Linked DNA regions of Homo sapiens. The protein of the gene in region 3 purifies or fractionates together with the protein of the main gene of each other region. This does not show direct contact. Each region holds a gene or a part of one and is shown on either strand. Other genes may lie near its edges. The genes, in order: ARHGEF7, ITSN2, NCKIPSD, ITSN1, EPS15L1, GIT1 and SNX33.

Region 1 (4,198 bases), on a different chromosome or scaffold from region 3:
CACTTGGAGCTGTGGATGCCCATTTTAGACAAAGGCAATTTAATATAAACTGGACGAGGCTTACGTTTCTTTTATATACACTTTTTGGGATTCTGAATTATATATAGCTTCTATAGAGAAAAGATAGGATGATCACCAGCCCCTAAAAAAAAAAAAAGCTGCTCCAAGTGTAATAATAAAGTTATGCACAAAATACCAAGCAACAAGAAAAAAAAGAACATTTCAAATAACCAGCTTCCAGTTTTGTTTTCTCTAGTAATTTTAAAGTACTCAGAAGAAGAGATATGAAACCCAGGGCATAGGACATGGATATTCATTCATATATTCTCACTCTCTCTCTTTTTCTCATCATGGAAAGATTCCAGGTCCAAAGCAGTACAGTAAAATTATTTCAGCCTCACTTCTCTTGAAAAAAAATCCCTCCAAAACAGCCAGGAGAACAAGAAACACAAGCATCATCTTCAATAAAACTAGAAGACACCTGGTTGGGCGCACTGGCTCACACCTGTAATCCCAGCACTTTGGGAGGCCGAGGTAGGCAGATCACGTGAGGTTAGGAGTTTGAGACCAGCCTGGCCAACATGGTGAAACCCTGTCTCTACTAAAAATACAAAAATTAGCCGGGCATGGTGGCGCACACCTGTAGCCTCAGCTACTCGAGAGGCGGGGGCAAGAGAATCACTTGAACCCGGGAGGCGGCCGTTGGAGTGAGCCGAGATCGTGCCATTGGACTCCAGCTTGGGTGACAGAGTGAGATTCTGTCTAAAAAACAAAACAAAACAAAAAAAACTAGAAGACACCTATCCCCAGGCCACCATTATGAAGGCAGGGAGCAGACGGAGGATGGGTGGGGCTTCAGCAGAGACTAGAAGGTCCCATCCCAGTAGCCAGTGGCAAGTGCACCCTCCCAGGTGGTAGACAAGCCACCTGTCTGAGAGTCAGATGCAGGCCTAGGGGCCCCAGCCCCATCACAGCTGGCCACCCCTCTTGCCATCCTTGCAGGGGTCCGAGGCTTATTCTCTGGGGAAAAGTGAACCAAAGAGGCCAGAACATGGAGAGGGCCAGCATGGACAGGAGCCAAGGTGAGGATGGACACTGCTCTGATAGGCAGCAGATGGAGGAGTCTCTGGAGAGACTCACGGCTGCTGGAGAAGAGACCAACAGGTTCAGACTTCTGGGCATCACCAGGCTGCCCCATGGCGAGACCTGCATGTCCCTGGGCCCCAGCAGTCACACAGGACTTCCTGGTCATTTTGAGGGCCTCACACTTGAAAGATCACATGATGTTTCAGTAAATCTCCAACATGGAAAAAAAGAATTGCATAAGAGGACTCAGAGGAAACAGAGACAGTGAATGCAGGGAAGGAAGCACCCTTCAAGGAAACTGTAATGAATGTTCACAGGAAGAGAGGAATCTTCCCAGAAACAGGAAGGGACTGACTGAAAGGGAAGAAACAGAGAGAAACCAGATAACGAGAAAAAAGAACTTTTAGAAATTAAAAAAAAAATAGCCAAAGTAGGTCAAAATAAAAAATGTTAGTAGAAAAGTTGGGAGATAAAGTCAAGGAAATGTCTTTCAGAAGGAGAAGAAACATACAAGTGGAAAGGTCAGCAAATGAGAGACTCAACCCAGCAGGCCTGGCAGCCGCAGGGGCAGGGGGCGGGGCCGGGGGGGGGGGGCGCAGCCCACCAGCCAACGATGGCCAGTTACCAGCCGCTCTGGAGCTCCGTTTCCTAATCTGAAAATGGGGGCGATCCTGTCACCACCTCCCTTATAGGGTGGTGAGGAGGGTTAAATCCATTATTATGGGCAAAGTCCTTAGAACAGTGCCTGGCATACAGTATGCACTCAATAGATATTATCTCTGATTAGTCTTAATAAGATTTCTAAAAAATGAGAATAGAGAAAATACTAGAGAGGAAATTATCAAGGAAATAAAGGATATAGAGGGTATTTTAAACAAAGGTACAAGCACTCTTGTGATTGGGATGGACTGTATTTACATATATCGGCATGTCCCCTAGTTAAGAATGGCACGGGCATGTATGTGTGTGTGTGTGATTTGTTATCTATGGCCATGGTAAACCTCAGTGGCTGGCTTGAGTCAGCCTGGTCCGGGCCTGCTGGTGCAGCTGTGCCTGCTCTGGGCAGGGCAGGCAGCTTGCTGACCCTGGCTGGGCTCTCTTCAATGTTTGAGGTTGGCTGGCTGTGGATAGGTCCAGGATGGCCTAGCAGGGACAACTGAGTTCTCCTCCATGTGATCACACCCCACCAGCACCCAAGCCCTGGGGTCTCCTCGGAGGTAGACACAGGGCCTGAGAGAGTGCAGAAAAGTGCAAGCCTTTCCAAGGCCTGGGCTAGGAACTAACACTGGCCACTTCTGCCACAGTCCATTGGCCAAAACAAGTCACAGCTCAGATTCAAGAAGTGAGGAAGCAGACTCCTACCTCTTGATGGAGGCGCTACAAGGTCACTTTGCCAGGGGCATGGGAGGGTTGGAGAATTGGGGCCACTTCTATCGTCTACCCCAACCCTTCTCCACTCTGCTTTGTGTCCTGGGAGGCTGACCTCTATACACAGTATCCCAGGGCCGCCTCCCAGCACAGGCCTTGGAGCCATTTGCTTAGACTACAGTGTGAACGGTTCTCCCAAGACCGGGCAGTACACAGCTTACACAACCACATGCAGGTGCCCTCAGTGAAGCCATCTGCAAAAGGAGGCGTCTGGGCTGGATGACTCTACATTCCTTCATCCTGAGAACTCACAAATACTTTATACCCAAGATCCTAGCATTTCTCTTCTGACCTGCCTGAAGAGGTGGTATGGCTGGCATCCATGCGTGCGCTTCCATGCGTGTGATTGGGTCACTAGCACGCACACAATAGGAACCTGGTAAAAGGGATGATTAAATGAATTCACATACATGTGTTTGAAATACACTGTGCACACATTCCATTTCAGTTCCCCTCACCGCCTCGCCTTGAGACCCCAGCAGACATGACACCATCCTGCAAAAACAGAGTTGAGAACTGCCAGCCTGGTGCATCAAACCTTAAAAATTCAAAGCTAAAGTTAGAAATATAAAAACATCAAGAGATTAATTCTCCTACCCTAACTTGACAGAACTGATAAAGGAGGGAGAAGTCAGAAGCTGTACCCGGGAAGCAGTCGGACCGGGGCGGCCCCAAAGCCCTCTCTCTGCAGACACCAGGTGGGGCAGGCTGGCCCTCACTTCCCATCTCTGACTCCCGGCCCTGCTGATGCATGAAACTTTATATAAGCGAAACCTGAGTCCACCCGCTCAGCCCTCCCGCTCCCCAACCAGCAGCTGTGTGCACTCAGCAGCTGCGCCCAGATCTGGCGCTGACCAGAGGGCCCTGGAAGCCACGTTCAGCAGGCCCACCAACCCAGACAATGGTGGTCTGTCCAGAGTGGGATGCAGAGGCTGCCAGCCCCCGAAAGTTGCAAGAGTCTGCCCTGTTGTGAGAATTAACCCGTGTTCCTGGATTTGGATGGCTCTGAGGTTCAAATCTTGGCTTACAGTCTTCTGGACACGATGGGGAAGGTTTTCAGTGTCAATCAACAAAACAGTAACTACTGCGTACTGAGGAATGACTTTGTGCCCAGCACATCTACTCATTTACCCTGGTAATGACCTCACTGCCCCCACCAGTGGATATCATTCATCTCATTTTTAGGAGGAAGAAACTAGGACTCCGAGAGGTTAGACAGGTGCCGGAAGTCACAGAGCAAATGGCTGCGGGAACAAAGCCAGGTGTGCCTGACTCTGAAGCACGCAGAGGACCGGGTCTCCCAGTGTCTCCAGGCAGGGACCCGTGGGTTCGGGGGATGCCAGTCCTCCCATCTCCCAGCGATGCACGTGGTAGAGTTGCGTGCCCAAAGGGATGATGTGCCTCTGCCACCTCCCTCGTGCAGTGAGAGACGCGTGGGCGTCAAGCCTACACAAGACTCCAATCCAAACGGCTAAAATCCACCCTACACAAGAACAAACGGCTCTGCCCCCACTCACCTCACAGCCCCCATCGCCTCCACTCTTTACATTTTAGAGTGATCAGTGGCCTCTAAAGGGAGAGAGATGTTCGTGTGTACATAGTACTTGAATTTTAAAAGTGTGTGTGGTGTAGATGCACACAGTTTGAAATCTTGGACTAAGTGGAAATCTGGTAAGCCCTACAG
Region 2 (4,198 bases), on a different chromosome or scaffold from region 3:
ATTAGAGTTCACAGTATTTAAATCAAGCTTTCCCACTTATACTCCAGACTATATTGTCTTAGCAGAGAGTGATAAAATCTAATCAGGAATAAAATGATCAAGTTTCTGTTTTTATTCAGTGCACGAGTAGACGCTATTTCAGTATCAGGCCGCGCCAAGTGTCGAGGCTGCAGCCTCTCATCCTGACCCTTCCCCTCCTGAGTGGCTGTGACCCAGCAGAGGTCACTGGCGTGGAATGGTTACAGCGTCACCAAACCACTCCACGGTGGACACATTCAACCGAGCGGTAACATCTGGTGGTCTGATGCCTCATTTCCAAGTAATACTTTTTATAGCCCTGAAAATGGAAACCTTGGCATCTAAACAAACAGAGCTGAACATGTGAACACTAGGACAAGGCACTGTACTATGGGGTTTGGTTTCTTTATGGGAAAGGTGTTTGCATAGATTGCTAGCTATTTAGTGTGCAGGAAAACAGAGCCCCCAGCGTGCATGGCTTTGTGAGGGGTGAAGCTGCATGGTGCTCCCTCAGCCCCAAGAGAGCGCAGTCTCTCATTCTCCAGCCCCAGCCTTGTGGGCTGTCCCGCTGGTGCTGTCCTTTAGAACCCCTACAGGAGAGTTTTTTGCTCAAAAAGCTGCAGGTCAAAACGGACCCAGACCTCCCCGGTGGGGACCTCATGCAGCAGCAGTCGGCGGGTCATAGGGCCTTTGCTTTCCTGTTCTGTTCGAATTTTTGCCACTGGAATTTCAGTACGACCCAGGAAATCTGGTGAATAAACACAGGAGAGTCAGAAGTCTTTCTTCTTTATAAAATCATTAAAGAGCTACATCCGGAAGAAGTGGATTCATAAAACCTTCAAATCTGAAACAAGGAACTTCTTTTGGCTCATGGCTGTTGAATGTCGTGAGTGGGTGTGTGGGGAATGATGGCAGGTTTGTGTGTGAGAAGCTGCCACATGGAATTCAAATCTCCATTCTGAGAATGCTCCAGGAGTGGTGTTCACGTCGTGTGTGTAGGGAGTGATGGGTCAAAGACCTGAAACACATCTCAGGCCACCTCCTCCCCTGAGGAAGGCCACCCACCTGCTGCCAAAGCGAGATGACACAGGCCTGTGTCACTTCCCTGAAGTGGCATGGGGTCTGCACACAGCTGAAGCCCCTAGATCTGGACTCCAGGATCTAGGAAACTGGGAAAGCCTTTAGATCCCCTGGCTGAGCGACACTTACCATCTGGTGAAAACTGGTCTCTGTCAAACAGGGTGAGACACAGCACGTCTTGGTAGAGATCCTTAATAAAGAACTGGCAGTTAAAATTCCACTTGGGATTGAGTGTGTCCTGGATGGTCCTGGTGGTGTAGCTCTGGGAGCCCATGCTGATTTCACAGTATGGGTTGCTCTTTCCTGAACAAAAACAAACCACAGACACATGTGGTGCATGCAGGTAAAACGAAGCGACTGACAGTGCCCTCCCTGAGCAGAAGCAGGATTCCAATAATGGGTCACTCGAGACCATGGCAGCAGGAGCCGCTGCCTGGGGCACCATATCCCTGTGGTCTAGTAACAGGGTCTCCAAGTTCCCAGTGCTGACAGCAGCATTAACTGGGGAGTGGCCGAGAGCTCCACCGCCAGGACCACTCCGCACGGAACAATCCTGGGTGAGTGTCACTGCAACCTGCTGCATGCTTCCTCGGCGCAGACACACTCGGGAAGGCGGGCACTGGCACTTACTGGGAAAACAGTGATAAGAATATTGGTCCAATATGCGCATTTTAGTGGCACTGGACACACTGTTAGAAAGCATTCCTTTATTCAGTGTTCAGAAGAGTCATCAGTGGCTGGGCGCAGTGGCACTTTGTCAGTGACAAAGTGCTGTAATCCCAGCACTTTGGGAGGCCGAGGCGGGCAGATCACTTGAGGTCAGGAGTTCGAGACCAGCCTGGCCAACATGGTGAAACCCTGTGTCTACTAAAAATACAAGAATTTGCCAGGCGTGGTGGTGCACACCTGTAATCCCAGCTACTCAGGAGGCTAAGCCTTGAGAATCACTTGTACCCCAGAGGCAGAGGTTGCAGTGAGCCAAGATCGTGCCACTGCACTCCAGCCTAGGTTATACACTGAGACTCTGTCTCAAAAAGTCATCAGCAAAAACTGGGGCAGGGCAGTTATGTCTGCTGAATGAATCAAGGCAGTATTTACCATTTGGTTTGCAGGCTTTTAATTCTGTAGCTTCAATGACATGCACCATCAGGCGCCCAATGCCTGAAGTCTTTTGGGAGCGGGCTACAAAAGAGGAAGACAAGTCTCATTAATCTCTTCTCCAAGGATGCAGACCCTGTCTTTCAAACCAACCATAACACTACCGGCTCCCTGTCCCCATCTGCCACTGCCCTGGGCCCAACAGCCCAGCATCTGGCTGCCCTGTGCCTTTCCCCAGGCTGTGTTGCCTGCTAGGAAGCCCCTGCTTGCTCTTTCTGCCCTGCCTGCTTTCTCTGCCCGTCAGCATCCTACTCATCCTTCAAGATGCAGGTCTGATCCCACATCTACCTCCCAGATCCCTTCCCTCCTCTGCATCCAGTATCCCTCGCTTATGAGCAGCCCACAGCCTGCTGGGTCTGAAATCGTGTGTAATGTCTGTCTCCTCTGCCAGACAGGAGCCAGGGTAGAGCATGGACTGTTTCGATCATCCTTATATTAACCCCTCAATTGCCTAGCAAATAGTAATATTAATAAAATAATACATGGTATTTGTGCAGCACTTAATAGCAGCTAACATTTACTGGATACTTACTTTGTGTTAGGCATGTGCTAGACTTATGTAAATTATATTATTTAAACTGCATAATTACCTGATAATGTAGCTCCCCATTTTACTGATGAGAAACACTGAGGCTTAGAAAGGACTGGAGTGTGATCCACTCAGAGCTGCTAAATGGCAGGGTCAACATTTAAACATCAGATACCAAAGTCCAGGCTCAGTTAAGCCTAGCACAGAGCCTGGCACAAAGTAATTGACAAATGTGGGAAGGACTGAACGCACGGACGATGCACAGCAACATATGCAGATGCTGATGGGAAGCAAAACTCAGGCAGAAAAACCGGATTGACATCTTTGGCCAATTAAGAGATCATATGCGTTATGAAATGATCAATCATTGATTTTTCAACAGCAAGCTTTTAAAGTACCATTAAAATAACACTAAATTAGCAAAAGCTGTTTTAAACATACCTTTTAGGAGTATATAACAAAATGGGGGAAACCTGAATAAAAAAACACATAAAGAGCTGCAACTATAGCAGCCAGGAAGCTGGTGGGAGGCCCAGGCAGGAGGGCAGGCTGCATGGGGGGGCCCGGCGGGAAGGAAGGTGGAGATGCAGGGGGCCGGCGGGGAGGAAGGTGGAGATGCAGCTGGCTCAGAGCACAGGCCCCCTGTGGGGTGGAGGCCACAGGCTGGCCTGGCACAGCTGGAGATGCAGCAGGGAGGTTGGGGCCTGGCATTCATGTGGAGGCTGGAGAAGAATGTGGGAGCTCTGGTCTGAAGGCCACGGTGGGGCAGGGTGGGGTGGGGGGTGCTTTACAAAGACCATTGCGGCTCCACTGAGCAGGTGAGTGATCTGTGCCATGAACACAGAGGACATCACCGGTGCAACAAATCTGGAGCCCCACTGGCATAAGTCACATGCTGGCCCCGATGTGGGAGGGAGTTGCCTTGAGGGAGCTTATGGCCATTAAGTGAGAAAAGCAGGGACTGAGAGGGCGCAAGCAGAGGCAACAGAGGATGAGCGCCCGGAGGATGATCGCAGCCTCAGGACAGCGGGGGGTCCAGGTAGAAGTCACACTGGTTAGGGCAAGAGGGTGTCATGGAGGAGGCTGTGTTTGACGTGGGCCTTGAAGGATGGGAAGAATTTAAGGTGAGGGCAGAGCACTTGAGCTGGAGGGGGAGCTCACATGGGAAGGCCAGGCAGGGCAACAATGGGCTGCTCAACTAGGCAGCTGGATGGGCCGGGCACAGGAAAGAGCTAGGGATGGGGCTGGGTGGCAGGTAGTAGTGGGGATGGGCCCTGAGTGTGGGGTAAGAAATGTGTCGTTAATTTGGGAGGCAATAGGGAAGATACTTCAGCAGGAAGAGGTATAAGAGCAGCTCTGGAAAAAAGAATACTCCAGAAATGAAGAGGATGGGTGGCAGAGAGGAAAGAGAGC
Region 3 (4,689 bases):
CATATGCCCCTGTGGGATGCTGGGACCCCATAGCCCAGGCCCCTCAGACATCCCCATCTCCTCCATGCTCCACCCCAGCCTACAGTACCCCATACTATCCTCAGTCCTGCGCTCTGCACACCCCTGGTGCTCACTGAAGGACCCGACCCCACCTTGCTCACTGGGAGGTGCCATTCCCCCACCACCCTTGCCAACCCTCGCATTTCCCAGGCCCACCTGCCCCATGACACTCATTGAAGAACCCCACCCCACCATGCTCACCGGGAGGTCCCACTTCACTCCCCTCAACACTCACTGGAGGACTCCACGCTGTTCCAGGCTGTACTTGCCACCATCCCGCATGGCTGTGTTGTGTACAGCCTCGATGGCCCGGTCAATGGCCTGGAGGACATCCTGCTCCAGGCCCTGGGGGGGGCAGGGGACAGCAGTTAGACCTGAAGGCCAAACGGAGGTGCTCAGCCCAGGCCCAGCCCGAGATAGAACCCAGGGCAGAGAACCAATATAGCGAAAGCCTGGAATGCTAGACATAGCACAAAAAGTTGAACCAGAATATGGAATGGGGTTCTCAAACTGTATCACTCAGGGAGCTGAGGCACAGGGTGACCCCCATGCTGCCACATTACATATTAGGTCCTGATCAGGATTTTACCCCACAGCAAGGCTCTTGGCTAAGATGTTTCTGAAAATCAGAGGTCTAAAGCAAAAACATAGCCCAGGGGCTCCCAGCTTGCAGCCAGGAGCGCATACCTCGTCTATCCCTGGTCTTGGCTCAGAGCCCAGGTTGAGATGCCAAACAGGAAGTCTCCAGTATCTGGAATCCTTAATACATCACTCTGCATCTTGCTGATCTTTCACAAAACCAAGGTCATACCCCAGAACAGCCCTGTCCTTGTAAGGGCCCTCTGTAAGCCCTGGGAGCTGAGAATGGGTCAAAGGGACTTGCCCTCCCCAACCCTGCTGCTGGCCCTCATCCCCACAAGATGTCTCAGTAAGCTTCCAAACCCACCCTGGGAAGCAGTTCTGTGTTTGTGGCAAAGGATAAACATGAGAGAGGGGCCTAGCCCCTGTTCCAGGCTCTGTACTGCCATCCCCAACATTCCAGGGATCCAGTCTACTCTGCCTATCTGACATGGGGAGTGTAGGGTAGCAGCTATCAAACCAGCTACCCCCAGCCCTCCCCTGGCCCTGGCACACGTAGTCCATCAGGCTACATAGGAGTCCCGGAGCTGAGATGAACTCATTCCACCATGGGTTTGAGAAGCTTCCCTGATGGGCACAGACAGGTGGGCACAGAGGTCAGCAAAGCCCTCCAGGTGGTATGAGGTGTGCCAGAGTGCAGGGAGAGGAGACAGGGGGATAGAAAGACATGAAGACACACACACACACACACACACACACACACACACACACACAGAGAGAGAGAGAAAGAAAGGAATGGGGAAAGAGAGGAGCTCAGAGAGGAACGGAGAGGCAGACAGAGGGAAACAACGCAGAAAGAAACAGAGCCAAAGCCAGAGTGTGGGGGGAGCCGGAGGAAGAAACAAAAACACACACATGTGGAGTCGGAACGACACAGGCAGAGAGGCACAGAGTCGCAGCAATCCAGACAGAAAGAGACACGCAGAAAGAAACAGACAGTGACAGAGAAGATGGTAGCCTCTCTGCCCTCCCCAAACACCTTGCCCCACTGGTCCTGGCTGGCGGCAGGGGACTCACAGGCCCTTGACCTATGCCCAGTAGGGGAAGAGACAGGACTTTTCCTCAGAGGCCTTCAATGAGACCCCATTCCCAAAAAGGTTGGGTCTGACACACAGCAGCCATGGTGTCCACGGCCCCCACTCCCACCCCTGGCACTCCTAGATGGGATCACGCCAAGGGTCTATGAGGAAGCCCCTAGGCCCCCAGGGCCCATCCTTCCTGGTAAGACCAGATGACACTTCCAAATTTATCCCGTTATTTCTGTCCTGAACTGGGCTGGGACAGGATGTTTCCTAAAGGATAAGGACTAGGACGGGGCGGGGGTGTCTGGCACAGGCCCGGCAGCTCTGGGCCCTTCTTCCCCCTGTGGTCAGAATAGACCAGCTGGAGATACGCACCCCAACCCCCGCAGCAGGGCTACTCTTAGGGAAACAGGAACTGGGACTGCAGCTTCCACTGGAAGGAAATGGGGCCACGATCAGACCAGGAGAAGCTATAAGAACTCACTTCATCACAATGTGAGCAGTCCCCACTCCAGGCTGGGAACAAGTAGGGATGGAACCCATTTTCAAAGCAAGAAAGTTTGAGAAGTCAGGGTTGGGGAGTGGAGCAGACAGTGTCAGCAGGGGCATGGGTCCTTGGTTCAAATAAGGTTGGTAGAGACTTAAGAAGAGCTTAGAGGGTGGCTGAACACAGGCTAGTGAAAGACACTGAAGTACCAAAGCTTGGGTGTTACATAGGGGATGGAGGTGTCTATGGCTCTAGGGTCCAAGTTGGGGGGTTGAGGACCTGGAGAATGGCTAGGGAAACAGGTGGTGTCCAAGGTGGTCCAGGTCTCAGTGGTGGCTCCAACGGGGGGCAAGGCGCGGGGTTGGGGGAAGAAGGAAGGGAGGGAGGGAGGGAGGGAGGGAGGGAGGGAGGGAGGTTGGTTGTGGGGTCCTAGGAATCCAGAGAAGGGGCATATTAAGGATCTGGGGTCTCAGGGATTTGAATAATTGGCCAGGATTCGGTGGGGCTCAGGGTCGCCATTCAGATGGCGGACTCGATACTGAAGGGTCTGGGGTCCTGAGGAGTCTCAGTCCCAGAGTTAGGCTTTTGGTCGATCGGGAGTTGGTCTGTCAAGGGCCTGGTCTTTTGTGGGTGATGCTGACACTTGGGGTCTCAGTCCCCGTGGGTCCGGGGGTCTCAGGGTCAGGTTCTCAAACTCCCTGTCTGATAGAGGTCCTGGCCTCGGGTCCCGGAGAGGGTGGGGTCCCTGGGTCGGTTCCGCGGGGCTGTGAAGGGGTCCTGCCCCAGGGGCGCGGAGGCCGGGCGGGAAGGGGCGCACTCACCTGCAGGCGGCGCAGGTAGGCTGGCGGCACGTAGCCCGTCTCACCACTGCGCGCCCGCGCGGCCAGCCACCAGTGCGCGCTGCTTCGCTCTAGCACCAGGAAGGTCTCGCCCGCGGCGAACGCCAGCGCGTTGGGCTCCGCCGAGCGGAACGCGTACAGCGCGCGGTACATGAGGCCGGGCAGGGCAGGTGCAGGGAAGGTGGCAAGGGCTGCGGCGCCACAACGCCAGGCCGGGAGCGCCGAGCCGCGCCGCGGTTGTCCCGCCCCGTGACACACTACGCAGGCGCGCGCGCGCCCGCCCGCCGAAGCCCCGCCCCGGGCTGTATCGTTCCACGCATCGGAGAGCAGCGCCCCCGCGCGGCCCCAAGAGGTGCGGCGGGGCTGGGGTCGACAGCTCGCTGTCTCCTCTGGTCCCTCCCGGCTCCAGGCCCCTCATCCCCGGACACCGCACCCTCACTCCTCACCCCGGCCTCAGTTTCACCCGTCCAGCCCTCTGCTCCCTTTCCCCGCTTAAGTCCGAGCGCTGCGTCCCGTCCTACCTCCCGGTGAAAGCGCGCTCCGCTCGTAGCGGGTGCGCCCCTACCGCCCTGGGGCAGTGGGTCCCATCTACTAATTGCAAGGACGGCGACCTCGAAAGGATGATCTTGCTGATCCGACACTTGGAAGCCCCCGCGGGGCCCGGCTCTCGGTGTGTCTAGGCCTCACCACCTGTCTTCACCGAGTGCCGGTGGTGGCCAGTGGGGAGCAAGTGTGGGGAGAAGGGGGCCACAAAAGCAGAAACCAGGCGGGGCTATTCCCTGTCTAAAGCCCTCCCATCTTTGCTCCCCACCCCTACTCCTCCTCTCTCTTCAGCTATGGCTGGTTTTCTCTATATTGGGCCTTTGCATATTCTGTTCCCTCTACCTGGGACAATTTTCCCTTCCCTCTCCTATAGTATTTGTCCGTCAAGCTCCCACCCCCATCAATCGCTATCATCTTGCTGTGTTTTATTGTCTTTATAGGACTTAAGATTTGCGATGCCCCTTTCTGAGAGCATAGAGGAGGGCTGAAAGAGGGAGTGGGGTACCACGGTGGCCTTAAGAGCCTATTTGATCCACCCAGCTTTCCAGTCAGCCCAGATCTCCAGATATATGAAATCCGTGTAATAAGAGTGCCTGGAAGACCCAGGGAAGAGGCCCTCAGGGTCCTGGAGAGACTGTGGCTGAGAATGGTCCAGCTACGCTCCACAGGAAGCCCGAGCCCAGGAAGCAGGAGGCGTGTACAGGCCAGTGTGTGCAAGTTTTCTATTTTTATCTGTATTTATTTTTTGAGACAGGGTCTTGCTCTGTCGTCCAGGCTGGAGTGCAGTGGGATGATCAAGCTCATTGCAGCCTTGATCTTCCAGGCTCAAGCCTACTGTCTCTGGGACTACAGGCATGCACCACCACACTCAGCTTTTTTTTTTTTTTTTTTTTTTTTTTTTTTTAGTAGAGACAAGGTCTTGCTATGTTGCTCTGGCTAGTCTCAAATTCCCGGACTCAAGCAGTCCTCCCAGTGTTGGGATTATGGGTGTCTGTCTGACCCAGTTGCCTATTTTTAGGCCTAAAGTACATAGGCCTAGTGTGAGGTTCAGGTGAGGGGTAGAACTGCTAGAAACTGACATCCAGACCCTGCCTTCTCT
Region 4 (4,198 bases), on a different chromosome or scaffold from region 3:
CAAATGTCACCATCCAGAAAGACCTGTCTTGGCTACCTTAGTTAAAATCACAACATTTCCTATCCCTAGGACTCTCTATTCCCTTCCCTACTCACTCTCCATAGCACTTTTCATCTTCTAATACAGTACACACTTTATTTTGTTAGTCTCTGTTCCTCCTGCAAACAGAGGGTAAGCTCCCAGAAGACAGAGTGTCTGTCCCTGCTGTAGCCTCAGAAACTGCAAAAGCACCTGGCCCGAAGCAGTGCTCAGTAAATATTTGCTGAGTTTGTCTCCTTGACAGGCTACTTTTCACACAAGGACCCTGTCTACTTCATTTTTGCTTCCCAGTGCCTAGTACAAGACAGTTGCTTAATGTTTACTGAATAAGTAAGTAAATGAAATGAATTAGAGAAAAGGATGCCAGTTTAATATAATAGCTTTTAAGAGGCATATTTCCTCACCTGTAATTGTTGCTGTAGATGGGTGATTTCGGCAATTCTCAACTCTCTAGATTTGTTTGTGCTCTCAATTTCTTGCCTTTGGGTGGTCAATCGACATCTGATATCTTGAAGTTTCCCTTCTAGTTGATGCTTTTTATCATTCTTGAACAAATGAAAGATAATAAAAATTATTACTGTTTTTAATGGTTCCATCTTAGTATATTTTCAAAGTATAACCAAACTTCACTCACTAGAGCTTCTAATTCAAATTCCAAAGTCTTTTTCTTTGCTTTCAGTACAACTATGTCCTCTTGTTCTTTGTTTCTTTGATTTAGTAGTTCTTGCCTTCGATTCCGTTCCCACTCAAGTTGTCGTTGCCTTTCAAGTTCCCGTTTTGCAGCCTGTGACATTTACAGAGACAAATTACTAATTTTTCAGTTCTTACACTACACAATGTCTTTTCACAAAAATGGCATCTAGGAAGTCTTTCCTTTTAGGGATGAAATATTAAACATTACAAGAAATCACATTAGAAAACAAAAAATTACATAAAAATACAGTATTCCTTCTATGGGAATAAAGGGAATACACAGAACTGGGTATTATATTTACATAATACTATATTTACGTAAGATGACAGGATTATTTCCCCATTAGAATTCCATTCTTTATGCCTTCAAGAATGCTTGATGTGCTAACTAAAAATGCTCCTTCTTATTTACTGACACGCCAAGAAGGAAAATTTATGTAGTAAAATCAAACTAAAACACCCCTGAACAAAAACAAACAAGAGTTGATTTTACTCCACCAAAAGAGAAATTATTACTTAACTCGTTTTAAAAGTCTGCGACTCCCCACTTCCTAATCATTCATTTCCTTTTTACCACAAAAGCTTTTGCTCCCTCCAACGACTGGCTCTGACGACTGCTAGATAGAGTACATATCAGAGCATCTGACAGTCTATGGGAATTGCCTCTGACTCATGGGTCATCCAACTACACCTGATACATGGTAAATGTCTATTAAATAATTCTGAATAAATACTCTAGAATATCATTTTTTTGGTACGTTGAAGAAAAGTTTGCCTATCTTTGTTCATTCTGAAAATTAAAATTTTGTTAGTGTCTGTCTGAACAAAAAGGAGTTACGGGGCCGGGCGCAGTGGCTCACGCTTGTAATCCTAGCACTTTGGTAGGCCGAGGCAGGCGGATCACCTGAGGTCAGGAGTTCGAGACCAGCCTGGGCAACATGGCGAAACCCTGTCTCTACTAAAAATACAAAAATCAGCCAGGCATGGTGGCTCACGCCTGTAATCCCAGCTACTCCGGAGGCTGAGGCAGGTGAATCACTTGAACCCAGGAGGTGAAGGCTGCAGTGAACTGAGATCGTGCCACTGCACTCCAGCCTGGGCAACAGAGCGAGAGTCTGTCTCAAAAAAAAAAAAAGGAGTTATGGCTATAAGTTTTGTTTCTTTCTTTTTTTGAGACAGGTTCTTGCTCTGTCACCTAGGCTGGAATGCAGTGGCCTCCAACTACTGGCCTCAAGTGATCATCCCTCCTTAGCCTCCCAAAGTGCTGGGATTACAGGCTTGAGGCACAGCACTCAGGCTATTTTTTTACATCGAAAAATTCCTCATTTTTATCTTTCATTCACATGAAAGAACCATGTGTTGCTTCTGCAGTAATGTACTAAAATTGGAAAGAGAGACAAGATTTGCTTAGCCCCTTTCCAGGTATGGCGCTAAATTTACGAAGCCTTCCATAGAATATAGGGAGGATGTCCCAGACATATTTTTAAAAGAGTTTAAAAAGAAGGTTGCATGGGCCAGGCGCGGTGGCTCATGCCTGTAATCCCAGCACTTTGGGAGGCTGAGGCGGGTGGATCACCCGAGGTCAGGAGCTCGAGATCAGCCTGACCAACATGGTGAAACCTCATCTCTACTAAAAATACAAAATATTAGCTGGGCGTGGTGGCGGGCACCTGTAATCCCAGCTACTCAGGAGACTGAGGCAGGAGAATCGCTTGAACCCAGGAGGCAGAGGTTGCAGTGAGCTGAGATCATGCCACTGCATTCCAGCCTGGAAGTGACAGAGCGAGACTCTGTCTCAAACAAAAAAAAAAAAAAAAAAGAAGATTGCAGAACAATGTAATTGGTATGATACTATTACAGTGGTTTTTAAAAAATTATACAGCCCTTACACTCTCCGCCATATAAACCTTTATATTTTTATATAGGTGTATACAGAGAAAACAGTCTGGAAAAACACTTTACTGGTATCAGTGGTTTGTTACAAAATTGTATCATCAAAAACTTGTACATTAATGTTCATAACATCATTGTTTATAATAGCCACAATGACCATCAACTGCTGAATGAATTAAAAAATGTGGTATACCCATATAACGAAATATTACTCAGCCATAAACAGGAATAAAGGACTGATTCATTTTACAATGTGGATGAACCTTGAAAACATTATGCTAAATGAAAGCCAGAAACAAAAGTCCATATATTGATGATTCCATTTATAAAAAATGTCCTGAATAAGTAAATCTAGAAAGATAGAAAGTAAAATTAATGATAGGAGCTGGAGGGAGAAAGAAATGGGGAGTAGCTGCTTAATGGGTAAAGAGCTGGAGTGATGAAAATGTTCTGGAATTAGGGACGATGGTTGCACAACTTTGGGAATATACTAAAACTACTGAATTGTAAAAAGACAAAGATGGCGTGAATAGATCACTTGGATAATTCTGAAAAGGGGTGATCGCACACTAACTCCGGGTGGCTCCACTCTCGCCTGCTTACCTCTCGCCTCTCAATTTCTTTCCTCCTCTCCTCCTCTCTCTGCCGTTCTAGCTCCCGCTGCTTTTCCAGTTGCTTCTCCAGTTCCAGTTGTCTTTTGCGCTCTTGCTCCTGGCGCTCACGCTCCTTCCTCTCCTGCTCCGCCCGCTCCAGCTGGGCCAGGCGCTCCTGCTCCTTGCGCTGCTGTTCCAGGAGAGCTTGCCTTCGTTTCTCCAGTTCCAGGTTGCCACGTTCAAAGTTCTCCCGCTTCTTATCTTCAAACGTTACTTCAGACAAGGAACACAGCAACTATGAAAACTCAAGATTTTCAACGGACTCTTTTCAAAGGAAAACTCACCAATGTATTTGAAATTTGTAGTACAAACCCAAACCCAGAACTCCCTAAGCTTCTGTGTCCTTGTTAATGAGCACAACGAAAACCCCCTTTGCCTAACCTCTCTGTTTATATCTTCTCCTCCACGCCAAACACTGTTTCTAAAAGATCCTTATCTAGCAGTTCTACATCACCATCCAGACTCCTTTCCTTCCCTGTTACTCCATCCTTTCCCTTCTTCCCATGAGCTTGCCCTAGGAATTAACCCCCTCTCTTCTGGACCATGAGTCTCTGTCTCTCTCCCTCCTTCCCTTTGCCTTGTAACCGTGCTGATGAGTCCTCTATTCTAACAAGATTTCTCAAAGCAGAGTGAAAGGTGAGCATTCGGCTTTTCACACTGAAGAACAAGCTGTGCCCTGATCCCTATGGAGATCACAGTCAGTCAACAATTTTTTCTAACCCATTATTCAGTTTCCTTCTTTAACACATCAATTATAAATTTAGAATGATTACTCAGTTCTATCCTTTTTTTTCTAATACTTTATGTCCATTTTATTTCTTCATTTTCTACAATCCCATCATCCTTGTCCCTTACTGTCCTCAGCAGTGTCTATTTCATTTCTGTGTTGGCCTCACGCAATCCTCCTTGGTACCAACGCC
Region 5 (4,198 bases), on a different chromosome or scaffold from region 3:
TGCCACTGCACTCCAGCCTGGGCGACAGAGCAAGACTCCGTCTCGGGGAAAAAAAAAGGGGGGGGGGATTTCTCAAAGAGTTCTCACAGTGTTGACAACCCGAAGATGTCCATAGGATTGAGGAGAAGGGACTCATGGTCAAGACTGGGAAACAATGGTTAAACTCGTTTACTCTTCATGAACGAGTCTCCTGTGATGTCCAAATCTAACAGGCTCCTGATACCAACTCAGGGAAATCAGAAAGCAAGCTTGGGAAACAAGGGATACCATGTGACCCAGATCAGCTTAGTTCAGGGGTTTCACGTAGCAAGTATGTGTGATGAAGTACAGCAAGGACTTGATCAAACAATTTATCAAAATCCATGGAGCTAGGCCAGGCACAGTGCTCATGCCTGTAATCTCAGCACTTTGGGAGGCCAAGGCAGGAGGATCCCTCAAGCCCAGGAGTTCAAGACCAGCCAGCATAACACAGCAAGACCCCATCTCTACAAAATAAATAAATAAATAAAATTAGCTAGGTGTGGTGGCATCCACCTATTCCAGCTACTAGGGAGGCTGAGGTGGAAGGATCACTTGAGCCCAGGAGGTTGAGATAGCAATGAGCCGTGATTGCACCACTGCACTCCAGCCAGGGCAGCAGAGCAAGATCCTGTCTCTTATATATTTAAAAAAAAAAAATCTATGGATCTAATTCAAATGATGAGAGTTCAGATGGCAAGAGCAACCTGATTTTTACTTGTGGCATTGTACTGTGTAAATTTTGTGAGCCTTCTCAAGTCTGGTGGACGTAAAGATGCCAATAAAGGAATTCTAATGAGAAATGGGCTTGCTGCCTTTTAAGTCACGGAGCTACAGCAAGCTAACCTCAGAAGCCAGGGATCACAAAGAGGTAACAGGAGTCAGACAAGCTGAGCTGTGGCGGGACACAGAAACAAGGGGGGTTCTGTGTCCCACGGGTCCCAAGAAGAAATTACGTATGAAATTATAGCTCTGGGATGACAAGAGTCCTAATAATACTTGCTGGGCAAACAAAAGGAACTCACTGCCTGATTTCTGGAGCCTCAGAGTATGTTAGCAGCAAGATTCTGATGCCAAATTGACTATAAACCCAACACGGGGCAGCCTTGCCGTGGAGCTGGCTCTCCCAGTGACAGCTGGGCTTTAAGGCCGGCTCAGCAGCCACAGGTCCCAAAGGAAGGATATCAGACCCTGGTGGCTGGAAGTGGCTTCACTCAAACCTGGCATGAGGGCAAAATCGGGTGGCCCTTGGGAGGCCCAGACAAGAGCATTGCTGGCCTGGAGATGAGGAAGTTGGAGTAGGGGGAGCATGTGGACTGTAGGCCCCCAGAAATGCTCGTTTTCATGACTGTGATCCTACCAATGCCGTCGTGGGGGCAGGAGCTATACCCTCCCACCCCACCCCACCAGGGGCCACTGGTAAAATCGGTCTAGTCAGAGGGTCTTGAGAGAACCACCAGAAGATCACTAGAGAGGTGGGTTATGACGCTGGGTGACCTGTGCCTACCAGTGAGTTTGGCCCCACTAGCTTCGTTGCCAGTAAAGTACCTCCCCTAACCTGACTTTCAAAACTCTTGGCAAGAGCTCTGCAGACACAGGCTGGGCACGGTGGCTCACACCTGTAATCCCAGCACTTTGGGAGGCCGAGGCAGGAGGATCACTTGAGCCAAGGAGTTCAAGACCAGCCTGAGTAACATAGGGGAGACCATGTTGAAATAATGAGATAAATGAATACTTTTTTTTTTTGAGATAGAGTTTCGCTCTTGTTGCCCAGGCTGGAGTGCAGTGGCGCGCTCTCAGCTCACTGCAACCTCCGTCTCCCAGGTTCAAGCAATTCTCCTGCCTCAGCCTCCCGAGTGGCTGGGATTACAGGTGCGCACCACCACACCCAGCTAATTTTTTTGTATTTTTAGTAGAGACGGGGTTTCACCATGTTGGCCAGGATGGTCTTGATCTCCTAACCTTGAGATCTGCCCACCTCGGCCTCCCAAAGTGCTGGGATTACAGGCGTGAGCCACCGCACCTGGCCACAAGCATTTTTTAAAGACATTTCATCACAAGCTTGACCGTTCTGGGGTTGCATGTTAAGAACTCCCGAGAAACATCCTACTGTGCTCTGAGAGGGGGCTGTGCCCGCTGAGGGCTCCGTACCTGTGTTTGCTTGAGGCTGTGCTTGGGGGACAGGCTCCCTGTGCTGTTGAGGCTGCTGACGCTGCCGTGGGACGGCGTGGAGCGGAGGCTGTCTTTTGGTGGGGGGCTGGCAGGCAGGACGGGGACGGCGCCAGGGAACACAGTCTTCTTTCTCTTGGAGGGTGGGATGAGGGACGGGGGCAGGGCGGAGGGCACGGGCTCCTTCTCCAGGGCTCGGTACACCAAGTGCATGGCCTGCAGGTGCAAACAACAATGGCACTGAAGGGGCAAGGCTGGGGCCGGGACCATCAGGAGAAGGCAGAGGGCAGCCCTTTGGGGGCTGCAGTGACAGGACACTCTGTCAGGACGCTCCCAAGCTGACCAGAGTGAAAAGAAATCATTCCTCATGAGTTATCTTTTATGTGTAACTTTCCAAGACATGTGTTGAATTATTCCTCGAGACTGAAATGCACACAGAAAGAATCCAATCAAGCCAGACTCCATATGCATCCCTTCACCACTCAGGGAGGCCACCAGCTCCAGGGCTGGCACCTTCCCAGTACTGGATTTGGAAGTCTAAAGACACCAGAAGAGAGACCTGTACTTCAAGACGTTCAGGAGTAGTCCCAGCTACTTGGGAGGCTGAGGTGGGAGGATTGCCTGAGCCCAGGAGATGGAGGCTGCAGTGAGCTGTGATCGCGCCACTGCACTCCAGCCTGGGTGACAGAGCGAGACTCTGTCTCTATAAAACAAAACAAAACAAAACAAAAAACAGTGGAACTGAGGATGCATCCATGAGGCAGGCCACAGCCATAGAAATAAATTCCTTGTGGAAGGCCAACTAATAAAAGTGCAAGGAATGATGGTTTTGATTAGCACATCACCATTTGGCAGCCACCATCATCATAATTAATCTTGCCAGATTAAGGCGAGACTCATCAGCGATGGTGGAACTCTCATGGAAGAGTCTGAGAGTCATGGGTGTTGACCGTATCAAGGCGTGCCCCACATGAGATGAACTGAGCACAGAGGGAAAAAGAGCAACTGCCCACAGGAACCCACAACCTTGACCCACCTTGACCCAGTGATGAATGTCAACATGGCAGTAAGAAGACATGTTGACATCACGTTCCCCCAGGTGGGAGGCCCATGTGGGGCGGGTGTGACCTCCGTGGGATTCCTGTCTCACAAGAGTGCATGACCTGGGTCATCAAGAGGACCTGGCAGCCAGGCCCAGGCCTAGGAACACTCCATAACTGCTGGCCTGTGCTCTTCAAAATGTCCACGTTGAAACCAGGCATGGTGGCTCATGCCTGTAATCTCAGCACTTTGGAGGCCGAGACGGGCAGATCACCTGAGGTCAGGAGTTCAAGACCAGCCTGGCCAACAGGGAGAAACCGCATCTCTACTAAAAATTCAAAAAAAAAATTAGCTGGCTGTGGTGGTGGGCACCTATAATCCCAGTTACTTGGAAGACTGAGGCAGGAGAATCGCTTGAATCCAGGAGGTGGAGGATGCAGTGAGCTGAGATCATGCCACTGCACACCAGCCTAGATGACAGAGTGAGACTCCCTCTCAAAAACAGAACAACGACAACAAAAAAACAAAAAGTCCACGTCAAGAGACACGAAGAGCGATGGAGGAACTGTTCTAGATCCCAGGAAACGAAAGACAAAAGACAACAGGATGTAACACACAGGACTGGGTTCTCTTTAGACACAAGGAACATTTTTGGGACAACTGATAAAATCTGAGTAATATCCTGGGATTAGATAATAATAGACACGCTCATACAGAATATAAGGGGTATATACAGGATATAATGAAAACATCATAAATGCAATGCTATGATGTGAATTTCCTGATTTTGAAGTGGATAATGGTTATGTGTGAGAGAAGTCCTTGTTTTTAGGAAATACGCACTGAAGTGTTTGTGGATGAAGAGGCATCATGTCTGCAACTTAACCCTAAAATGGTTCACAGGAAAACTTCGTGCAGCAGTGGGAAGGGCGAGAGAGTGATGGAGGGAGGGAGGAAGAAGGGAGGAGAA
Region 6 (4,035 bases), on a different chromosome or scaffold from region 3:
CGGAGGCAAAGGTGCAGCAGCTCATGAAGGTCAACAGTAGCCTGAGCGACGAGCTCCGGAGGCTGCAGCGAGAGGTGAGGGTGCAGCCTCGGTGGGAGGGGGAGCCCCAGGACTCCAGGGGGTTGACAGCACTTTGCACCCATAGATCCACAAGCTGCAGGCGGAGAACCTGCAGCTCCGGCAGCCTCCAGGGCCGGTGCCCACACCTCCACTCCCCAGTGAACGGGCGGAACACACACCCATGGCGCCAGGCGGGAGCACACACCGCAGGGATCGCCAGGCCTTTTCCATGTATGAACCTGGCTCTGCCCTGAAGCCCTTTGGGGGCCCCCCTGGGGACGAGCTCACTACGCGGCTGCAGCCTTTCCACAGCACTGTGAGTCACCTATGGGTCTCAAGGTGTGGGGAGATGGGTGGGGCTGCCGCAGGGTCCACCATGACGCTCGCTGTGCTAACATCCCCAGGAGCTAGAGGACGACGCCATCTATTCAGTGCACGTCCCTGCTGGCCTTTACCGGGTAAGCCTGGGGAAGGCGTGTCCATCTTAGCCAGTAGGTTCTGAGCCCCAGGGGGTTCTGGGCTCTGTGCTGAATTCGGGGCTTAAGATGATTAGACTGACCTGGTCCCTGCTGCACTGCTGGTGAGCAGGGGGGCAGTGGGGCACACTGACTCCATCCAGCGCTGCCCTGGGTTTCAGATCCGGAAAGGGGTGTCTGCCTCAGCTGTGCCCTTCACTCCCTCCTCCCCGCTGCTGTCCTGCTCCCAGGAGGGAAGCCGCCACACGGTAATGTTTCCATGCCCAGTGCCCACAGGGTGGCTGGGGGCCGTGTGGGCTAGGGGCAGTGTGGGTCCAGGAACACGGCGCTCACAGCCCCTTCCCTCCGCCCTCCAGAGCAAGCTTTCCCGCCACGGCAGTGGAGCCGACAGTGACTATGAGAACACGCAAAGTGGGGACCCACTGCTGGGGTGAGGCTCCCTGGGTCTCCAGTCCAGCCTGCTCACATGCCGAGGCGGGGAGGTTGAGAGGGCCCCCAGTGTGTGAGGACCAAGGCGGGCGGCTCCGAGGCTGGAACGTGTCTTTCTCTATATGTATCTTTGTCTCTGTTTTCTGGACCTGGGCCTCAGGCTGGAAGGGAAGAGGTTTCTAGAGCTGGGCAAAGAGGAAGACTTCCACCCAGAGCTGGAAAGCCTGGATGGAGACCTAGATCCTGGGCTTCCCAGCACAGAGGATGTCATCTTGAAGACAGAGCAGGTCACCAAGAACATTCAGGAACTGTTGCGGGCAGCCCAGGAGTTCAAGCATGACAGGTACTGAGTGGAGGGGGAGGTGAGGGGGATGCAGTTCCTGTTGGCTTCTAGGGTGTTGCAGAGAGCATGAGGGGCCCTGGGTTCTGCTGTCCCTGGGAACCTCCCTTGAGAGCCCCCTGCTTTATAGCCTCCCTTCTCCCCGCAGCTTCGTGCCCTGCTCAGAGAAGATCCATTTGGCTGTGACCGAGATGGCCTCCCTCTTCCCAAAGGTACAGGGGCCAAAGAGAGGACCAGGAGTGGGAGGGCCTCGAGCTGGGGCAGGCGTGGAGAATCCCATCTGATCGCTACCTGGGTGGAGACACAGACAAACTGGGCCCTGATCTCAGCTGGTGGCTTAAAGTCCAAGGTCCAGCCTCACTCCTGCCCCCTCCAGAGGCCAGCCCTGGAGCCAGTGCGGAGCTCACTGCGGCTGCTCAACGCCAGCGCCTACCGGCTGCAGAGTGAGTGCCGGAAGACAGTGCCCCCAGAGCCCGGCGCCCCAGTGGACTTCCAGCTGCTGACTCAGCAGGTGATCCAGTGCGCCTATGACATCGCCAAGGCTGCCAAGCAGCTGGTCACCATCACCACCCGAGAGAAGAAGCAGTGACCTCTCTCCCCACACCCTCACCTGCACCCTAGGACCTCACTGGCCATAGGAGCTGGGCCACTCCAGACATTAATCCCCACCCCAACAGAGCCACTGGCACAAGTGCCCTTAGTGCTGCCACACTCCCTGGCAGCCAGGTGCCCTGGTGCCCACCCCTGTCGAGCCCCTAAGGATGGGGAGGTGGGGGGGCAGGAGCTTCTGTCCCCCACATTCCATGCACCTCCCCTCTGTATATAGCATCTCCCCCCTCCTAGTGAGCAGGGGCCTGCAAGGCATCACTCCCAGCCCCTCGCCTTCTAGGGCACCCTCAGCAAAGGGGCAGGTGGGGACACTCCAAGTGGGGCAGCTCTCCGTACATGCGCCCCACCCCCATGAGCCAGTTCAGCCCTACTGGGGGCTGAGCGGGGGCATCCCCTCCTTTGTACATAGTCTCCATGGATGTCCCTGCCCTGTAGCCACCAGCCCCTTGCTGCTCTCCCTTTAATGCCATATGGCCCCTGCCTAGGGCACAGGCCCCAACCTGTGTGCTGGGGTCCCCAGCAGCAAACACTGGAAAGTCTGTTTTTTTTTTTTCTTTCTTCTTCCCCACCCCTTAATTTTAACTTTGTGGTAACTGAGTGCCCCCGCGTGCCTGCGTGTTGAGTGTGTGGGCGGCAGTGCCGTTCCGGAGGCCTGGTCCATCTGGAGTTTTGAGGGGTGAGGGGACCAGAGCAGTGGGACCAGCATGGGGATCAGCTTCCCTTCCCCACCTGGAGCCAGGGACTGTCCGGGTAGCCAGTTTTGGTCCTGCCAGCTGCCTCCCTGATCCCTCCCCACTCTCGCCCCTTCTCTATGAACTTAAATCAAAAACCACTTCCCTCCATCTCCTCCTGCTCCTGCGTGGAGGGGGAATGTGTGCTGGCTAGGGTGGAGGACTGAGCACCTGAGCCTGGGGCTGGCTCCCCGGGGTCCCCGACTCAGCTGGTGGCTGTGGAGCTGAGTCCCCTCCCCGTAACCTCTGCAAGGCCAGCACCCACCATCACTACCTGCACCTGCTGTGGTCCCACCCTCTGGAGGCCTGGGAACCTGGCTGCAGCCTGGGAAGGCTGGAGAGGCAGACGGTGGGACCCACCAGCTCTCTCCCCATCCCGCTTCTTCCCTGGGGGCCAGGCCCTACCTGTGTGGTGGTGGGTGGGCTGTCAAGACGTGTCATGTACATTTGTATCAAAAATAAAGAAGTGACCATGAGCTGTTTCTGATGCTTAGAGAATGGGGGCTGGAGGGAGGTGGCAGACATGAAGGGTGACTGCAAGTGCCCCAGGACCCCCGCCCTAGGGAAGCCCCTGTGCTGGGAACGTCTGTCTAGTGGAAGAGTTAGTTTGCGAATAACAAAGCTAACATGTATGACGATAACGCCACCCTCCCACGAGCACATTCCTAAAGCCCCATGTCCAGGGACAGGTTGGCCAGCGGGGGCGGGCTGCCTCAAACACCACCTCCATGGCCTAGGACGAGGGTCCGGGTGGGAGTCTCTGTGCGGCAGATGCACAAGCTCAACTCCAGAGTCTACTAAAAATAATTTAATTAGAAACGGAGTTTTGGCAAGGGAGGCAGAAGCGGCTCCTTTTCTCCCCTTGGCCGCCCACTCAGCAACCAACAAGGAGGAAAGCCCCCGCAGTGCTCGGCCAGTGCCGCGCCATCGCCACCAGGGAGCGCCCCGCGCGCGGTCCACGTGGCAGAGGTCGCGGCCTCGCGGCGCGGGGAGGAGCCGCACGCCACAGTGGCAGGTCCCAGGCCGTCACTCCGAGCTCTCGCCTTCCGGGCCGCTGTCCGGCGTGGGCGGGAGGAGGGGTCTCCGGCGCGAGCGCTTGACCCGGCGCGAGGGCTGCAGCAGCCTCCGCTTCAGCACAGCTGTGGGCCGGGCGCCGAGCAGTCAAGGGCGGGAGGGCAGGGAAGCTACGGGGGGCGGCGGGCGACGCGAGGTGGGGCGGGGGCCTCGGGTAGGGTAGGGAGGGAACTCCTCACCAGCCACTGTGTCCTGGCTGTCCGCTGTGGGCCCCCAGTAGATGCTCTCCCCGCGTCGGAAGTTTCTGTGCAGCCGTGTGCAGAGCGTGGCCAGGGTGAGCAGCACCAGCAGGAAGGTCAGGGCCATGGCAGCCCAG
Region 7 (4,198 bases), on a different chromosome or scaffold from region 3:
GAAGACAGTGCCACAGAGCCCAAGGACCCTGAGATCCTGGGTTTGGACCTGCTTCGAGTGTGGGGAGTTATTGCTGGTGAACTCAAATATACAGTCACTTTTGAGAGTCTTCTCCAGGAAGGTGTCACCAGGGATCTGGGGCCCAGGGCTTATACCTCAGCACCTTGAGTCCGAGGAGGGGAGGATGCTGCAATGGTCCCCTGCCCGAGATAAGCTGAGGGCCCAAAAGTGGAGGGGAGTCAGAGGCCTACAGGAGGGAGATGGCCTGTAGCCCCCTCCTGCAGGGGACAGGGTGATGTACGGACAGCCAGCAACATGGGAGCAAGGGAGATCCCTTCCTACCACACAGGCCAGAATCCCCATGGAAAGCGTACCTAACTTGCTTGGAAAGTAAGGGAGAGAAGAGGGAGATGTTTGCATGCCTCCATAACTTTGCCCATGCTGTTCCTCTCCCCTGAAAGTCCTTCTCCCCCATGTACTGTCTGGCAGGCCCTTGTCATTCTTCAAAACACTGCCCAAATGTTGCCTACTCTATGGAGTCTTCCCTGACCAGTGGAATGCTGTGGTCCCTTCTATGAGCTTCCAGAAATCCCTCACTTAAACATCAGTCATACTGCATTGACTCTGTCTGTGTCTGACCCCGACCTTCACTGAGGACTCCTGAAGAGCAGGCATGTCACAGCCCTGGGTGCCCAGCATCCGACCCAAGGGTGCAGCAGGCCTCGGTGTCTGCTGAATGGATAAGGCAGCAGTGGCCAGGTGAGCAAGCAAAATAGGCTCTAGGGGAGGCTGAGACCCTGGCCTGACCTTCACTGACTGACCGGCAGCCCAGGCCTTGGCCTCGAGGGCTCCTGACTCTATTCTCACCCCTGCTGTGCCCCACTTCTAAGGAGTGGGGAATTTCCCAGGGGCACCCATGACTCCTTGAAAGCTCCTTCTCCCAGGAGGCAGGACAGGCCGCTTATCTCCCCCACCGCTGACCCCTCCCCCAGTCACTGCTGGTATAGGGAGGTCGGGAAAGTGGGGTACACTGCAGTGACCAGGCCCAGGGGAAGGAGGGGGCCCAGGCACACGCGGTCAGAGGTTGTCATACATGCGCAGGGTCTTCTCCAGCTGCTGGCCCACCCGCTGGTAGAAGAGGATCTGCTGGCGCAAGTAGTTCTGCATCATGTGCTTGAAGTCGAGCTCACGGCGCTGGTGGAAGTGGTTCATCTCGGCCTGCAGGGCGAAACCCACCACGCGGCAGCGCCTGCGAATGCCGTCTGCCTCGTCCTGCACCATGCGGCCCTCGTCACTCATGCGTTGGCTCTCCTTCACCTTGGCGAAGGCGCCTGGCATAGGCAGAGCAGAGGACAGCGTGTGAGGGCTCTGATCTCCATGTGCTCCCTGTACCCTTGAGGGCAGACAGCACCCTCATCAGCTCAACTCGGACGTCATTCCTGAGCCCCAGACCCACATTCCAGCCACCTGGGTGTCTCTGCCAGGATGTTACCCAAGCCATCACCCTCAGCACCTCCTAAACCAAGCACATCATCTTCTCTCCAAATGTGCAGTGCCACCAGTAGCCCACATGTGACCAGTCACAGCCCTGCTTGATGGACTATGAATTCAATGAGGATAGAGCCTGTCCTCAACCTCTCTGTGTCTCTGGTACCCAGAACAAGGCCTGGCCCACAGCAGATCCTGATATAGGCCTGCTGAACTGATTCAACCCTGTCCCTCACTGGACTGCTACAACAGCCCCGCCACGTCTCCCTGCCCTCCGCCCCAGCCTCTGACAGGTTCTCTGCAGCATCTAAAGAGGTATCCCAAGCTGGGCACCTTTCCTAGCTCTCCACTACCTACAGATCAAGGTCCACACCAATCTGCCTGGCCTGGGGGGCCCTCACCTCTGGGAGTTGGCCCCTGCACGCATTCCACACTGACCCCCATGTTCGTCAAACTCACCTGGCTCTTTCCTACCTTCCTACCTCTGCCCCCTGGATTCCTATTCATAATTCATGGCCCCGATCAGGTGCCACTTCTACACTGGAGCCTCTCCCAGTTCCCCTGACAGAATGTCTCTCCCATGTCACCTGTGCCCTGGCTCCCCACCCCCACCCCCATCACACTGCTGATTCTAAAACAACTCTTCAAAGGCCACCTGGTGTATCTCCCAGACATGCACGCCCTGTTCCCTCCTCATCCCAGCCCCCAGGGAACTCGAGGAGGTTGTGTAATAACCAGGTGACAGATGGGGGGTGGAGATGAACCTGGGCAGAGGACCCAATTTAGAAGAATCTGAATGAATGAACAAGCAGCTGGTGAATGAATTTCAGTTCTGAATTAAAAGGGACTTGACGAATTCTGCCTTTAAGCCAGTGGGGACAGTTGCTGGGAAGAGAAGGAAGTTTGCCTGTGCCTGGCACTCAGTCGCCGAGGGCTGCAGAGAATCCACCATACAAAGAAGATTAGGAGCAGGGAAGGGTTGGCATAGAGGACAGCACACCCCTGAGCACTGCAAACGCACCCACTACACACAGATAGCATGCTCAATACCCATGCTTTCCCACTTCTCCTTTAAGGAGGGCTCTTGAGGGCTGTCTAGATAATATTCTCTTCACTCCCTGGCTCAAATTGTCCAGTGCATTCTAAATGCATTCATTGAGCACTTACTGTATATCAGGCCCAGGGCTCTACATGCTGGGAATAACTCTGGATGCCTTTAGAAGGGGCAACATCCATGTTAGTTGATAAGTGCATGGCTAATCGGCTAATAGTAGCATTTCAGGCAAACAGACTCAAGTTCAGAGAGTCTCCAGGGCTGCTCACACAGCGCCCAAAAGAAATCTGCATTCCCCAGCTCCCAGCCCACTCAGTCCTTCTGCCACCTTCCCTGGACCACCTCCTGCACCATCTCAACAGCCCAGCCCTGGGCAGCAGAAGGGGGATCACCCCAAGGCCCAGGATAGGACCCAGTAAGAGACTTCAGAGCTAGAAAGGCCCAAAAGATCAGGTGTCCAACCCTCGATTCCACCTCCATCCTACTACTGTACAGAGGAGGCCAAGGCCCTGAGGGGCAGGAACTTGCCCAGGACTCCCAGCCTCTTTCCTGCCTGGTCCTCCACAGCTGGGGGTCGGACACCACTTCTGCTGCAGGGAGCCCATGCCAGGTCCTTCAGGCATATGTGTGGGGCCCCCAGACGTTGGACACAGGGATTCAAGAAGGTCCCAAGGAGTAGGAAGAACCGTAAGAAGAAAGGTAGAAAACAGCAGGGTGAAGAAACTGGAGTTAAACTTCCGCAGAAGGAACCTAGCTAAAGAGGAGATACTGAACTAGCCTGGATTCCACCTGCCGAGAAAGTTGGCACAGTGGAAGTGCATCTATAGACTTTTCCTGTCCATGGCCTTAGAGGAAGGAAAGGCCTCTTTTGCTGATGAGGAGCCCAAAGAGTAAGAATGAACCCATTGCAATGGTTAGGTATCCACAGACAGGCAGGAGGCCAGGGATGGGGAGCAAAGGCTGCAGAGGTCGGGGGGAAACAGAGGCCCCACCCTGTTCTCCGTTACCCCTCCACCCTGTGACTCAGCTCTGGGGCCAGGACCAGCTAATGCTAATGCACCCCACCCCACAGGCTGGGAGTCAGGGCTCAGGCCTGTCCAGCATCCCCCCGACATTCTACTTAAGACTTAACCTGAGAGCTGAGGACCCAGGGGGACCTCCTGCCTCAGCACTCCTCTTACAGGCTGGGTCCCAAAAATGCAGAAAGGAGGGTTGGAGCCCACCAGCTGCAAGTCCCAGGGATATTCCCTAAGCTCCCACCTCAATCCATCTTGCCCCTGCCTCTTGGAGACAGTTAACATCCACCCCAGGTTGGGGGCAGGAGGGAGCAGGAGGTCTGAGTCCTAGTCCTAGCTGTATCCTCTCCAGCAAGCCACTGCTCTTGCCTGGGCTCCAGGTCTCCCCACTGCCCAGTGGGACAGGTTGCACTAGATGTGATGCTGTTGACAACCTCTCACACGGTATAGTGCTTTAAGGAGTTTCCACATCTGTAAAATGGGATAATAATAGTACCTGCCCTATAGTATAGTTGAGGCTTAACTGAACTAATATGTACACAGTTCAAAGGAGCGCACCTGAGATACAATAGAAGCTCCAGATGCTACATGTTATGGCTTGAAAACTGCTTTTCTTTTCTTTTTTTTTTTTTTTTTTAAT

What was found.
Region 1: the proteins of NCKIPSD (region 3) and ARHGEF7 purify together in Homo sapiens (co-immunoprecipitation; 3 studies listed by BioGRID and IntAct, with this or other methods). This does not show direct contact.
Region 2: the proteins of NCKIPSD (region 3) and ITSN2 purify together in Homo sapiens (co-immunoprecipitation; 3 studies listed by BioGRID and IntAct, with this or other methods). This does not show direct contact.
Region 4: the proteins of NCKIPSD (region 3) and ITSN1 purify together in Homo sapiens (co-immunoprecipitation; 3 studies listed by BioGRID and IntAct, with this or other methods). This does not show direct contact.
Region 5: the proteins of NCKIPSD (region 3) and EPS15L1 purify together in Homo sapiens (co-immunoprecipitation; 3 studies listed by BioGRID and IntAct, with this or other methods). This does not show direct contact.
Region 6: the proteins of NCKIPSD (region 3) and GIT1 purify together in Homo sapiens (co-immunoprecipitation; 3 studies listed by BioGRID and IntAct, with this or other methods). This does not show direct contact.
Region 7: the proteins of NCKIPSD (region 3) and SNX33 purify together in Homo sapiens (co-immunoprecipitation; 3 studies listed by BioGRID and IntAct, with this or other methods). This does not show direct contact.

Annotation. Positions count from the first base shown.
Region 1 is NC_000013.11:111,121,345-111,125,542, reverse strand, and holds part of ARHGEF7 (rho guanine nucleotide exchange factor 7), read right to left. Parts: intron 1-4,198. UniProt on the Homo sapiens protein: Acts as a RAC1 guanine nucleotide exchange factor (GEF) and can induce membrane ruffling. Functions in cell migration, attachment and cell spreading. Promotes targeting of RAC1 to focal adhesions. May function as a positive regulator of apoptosis.
Region 2 is NC_000002.12:24,203,018-24,207,215, forward strand, and holds part of ITSN2 (intersectin-2), read right to left. Parts: intron 3,259-4,198; coding exon of another isoform or gene 3,230-3,258; exon of another isoform or gene 3,227-3,229; intron 2,281-3,226; coding exon 2,197-2,280; intron 1,402-2,196; coding exon 1,228-1,401; intron 767-1,227; coding exon 609-766; 3' UTR 1-608.
Region 3 is NC_000003.12:48,682,608-48,687,296, forward strand, and holds the start of NCKIPSD (NCK-interacting protein with SH3 domain), read right to left. Parts: upstream 3,309-4,689; 5' UTR 3,201-3,308; coding exon 3,030-3,200; intron 406-3,029; coding exon 296-405; intron 1-295. UniProt on the Homo sapiens protein: Has an important role in stress fiber formation induced by active diaphanous protein homolog 1 (DRF1). Induces microspike formation, in vivo. In vitro, stimulates N-WASP-induced ARP2/3 complex activation in the absence of CDC42.
Region 4 is NC_000021.9:33,771,354-33,775,551, reverse strand, and holds part of ITSN1 (intersectin-1), read right to left. Parts: intron 3,492-4,198; coding exon 3,229-3,491; intron 824-3,228; coding exon 674-823; intron 585-673; coding exon 444-584; intron 1-443. UniProt on the Homo sapiens protein: Adapter protein that provides a link between the endocytic membrane traffic and the actin assembly machinery. Acts as a guanine nucleotide exchange factor (GEF) for CDC42, and thereby stimulates actin nucleation mediated by WASL and the ARP2/3 complex.
Region 5 is NC_000019.10:16,422,914-16,427,111, forward strand, and holds part of EPS15L1 (epidermal growth factor receptor substrate 15-like 1), read right to left. Parts: intron 2,404-4,198; coding exon 2,170-2,403; intron 1-2,169.
Region 6 is NC_000017.11:29,572,561-29,576,595, reverse strand, and holds the end of GIT1 (ARF GTPase-activating protein GIT1), read left to right. Parts: coding exon 1-74; intron 75-145; coding exon 146-376; intron 377-464; coding exon 465-518; intron 519-697; coding exon 698-784; intron 785-892; coding exon 893-966; intron 967-1,125; coding exon 1,126-1,308; intron 1,309-1,453; coding exon 1,454-1,517; intron 1,518-1,660; coding exon of another isoform or gene 1,661-1,681; coding exon 1,682-1,894; 3' UTR 1,895-3,121; downstream 3,122-4,035. Other genes in the region: TP53I13 (tumor protein p53-inducible protein 13), read right to left, coding at 3,899-4,035. UniProt on the Homo sapiens protein: GTPase-activating protein for ADP ribosylation factor family members, including ARF1.
Region 7 is NC_000015.10:75,654,095-75,658,292, reverse strand, and holds part of SNX33 (sorting nexin-33), read right to left. Parts: intron 1,332-4,198; coding exon 1,078-1,331; 3' UTR 1-1,077. UniProt on the Homo sapiens protein: Plays a role in the reorganization of the cytoskeleton, endocytosis and cellular vesicle trafficking via its interactions with membranes, WASL, DNM1 and DNM2. Acts both during interphase and at the end of mitotic cell divisions.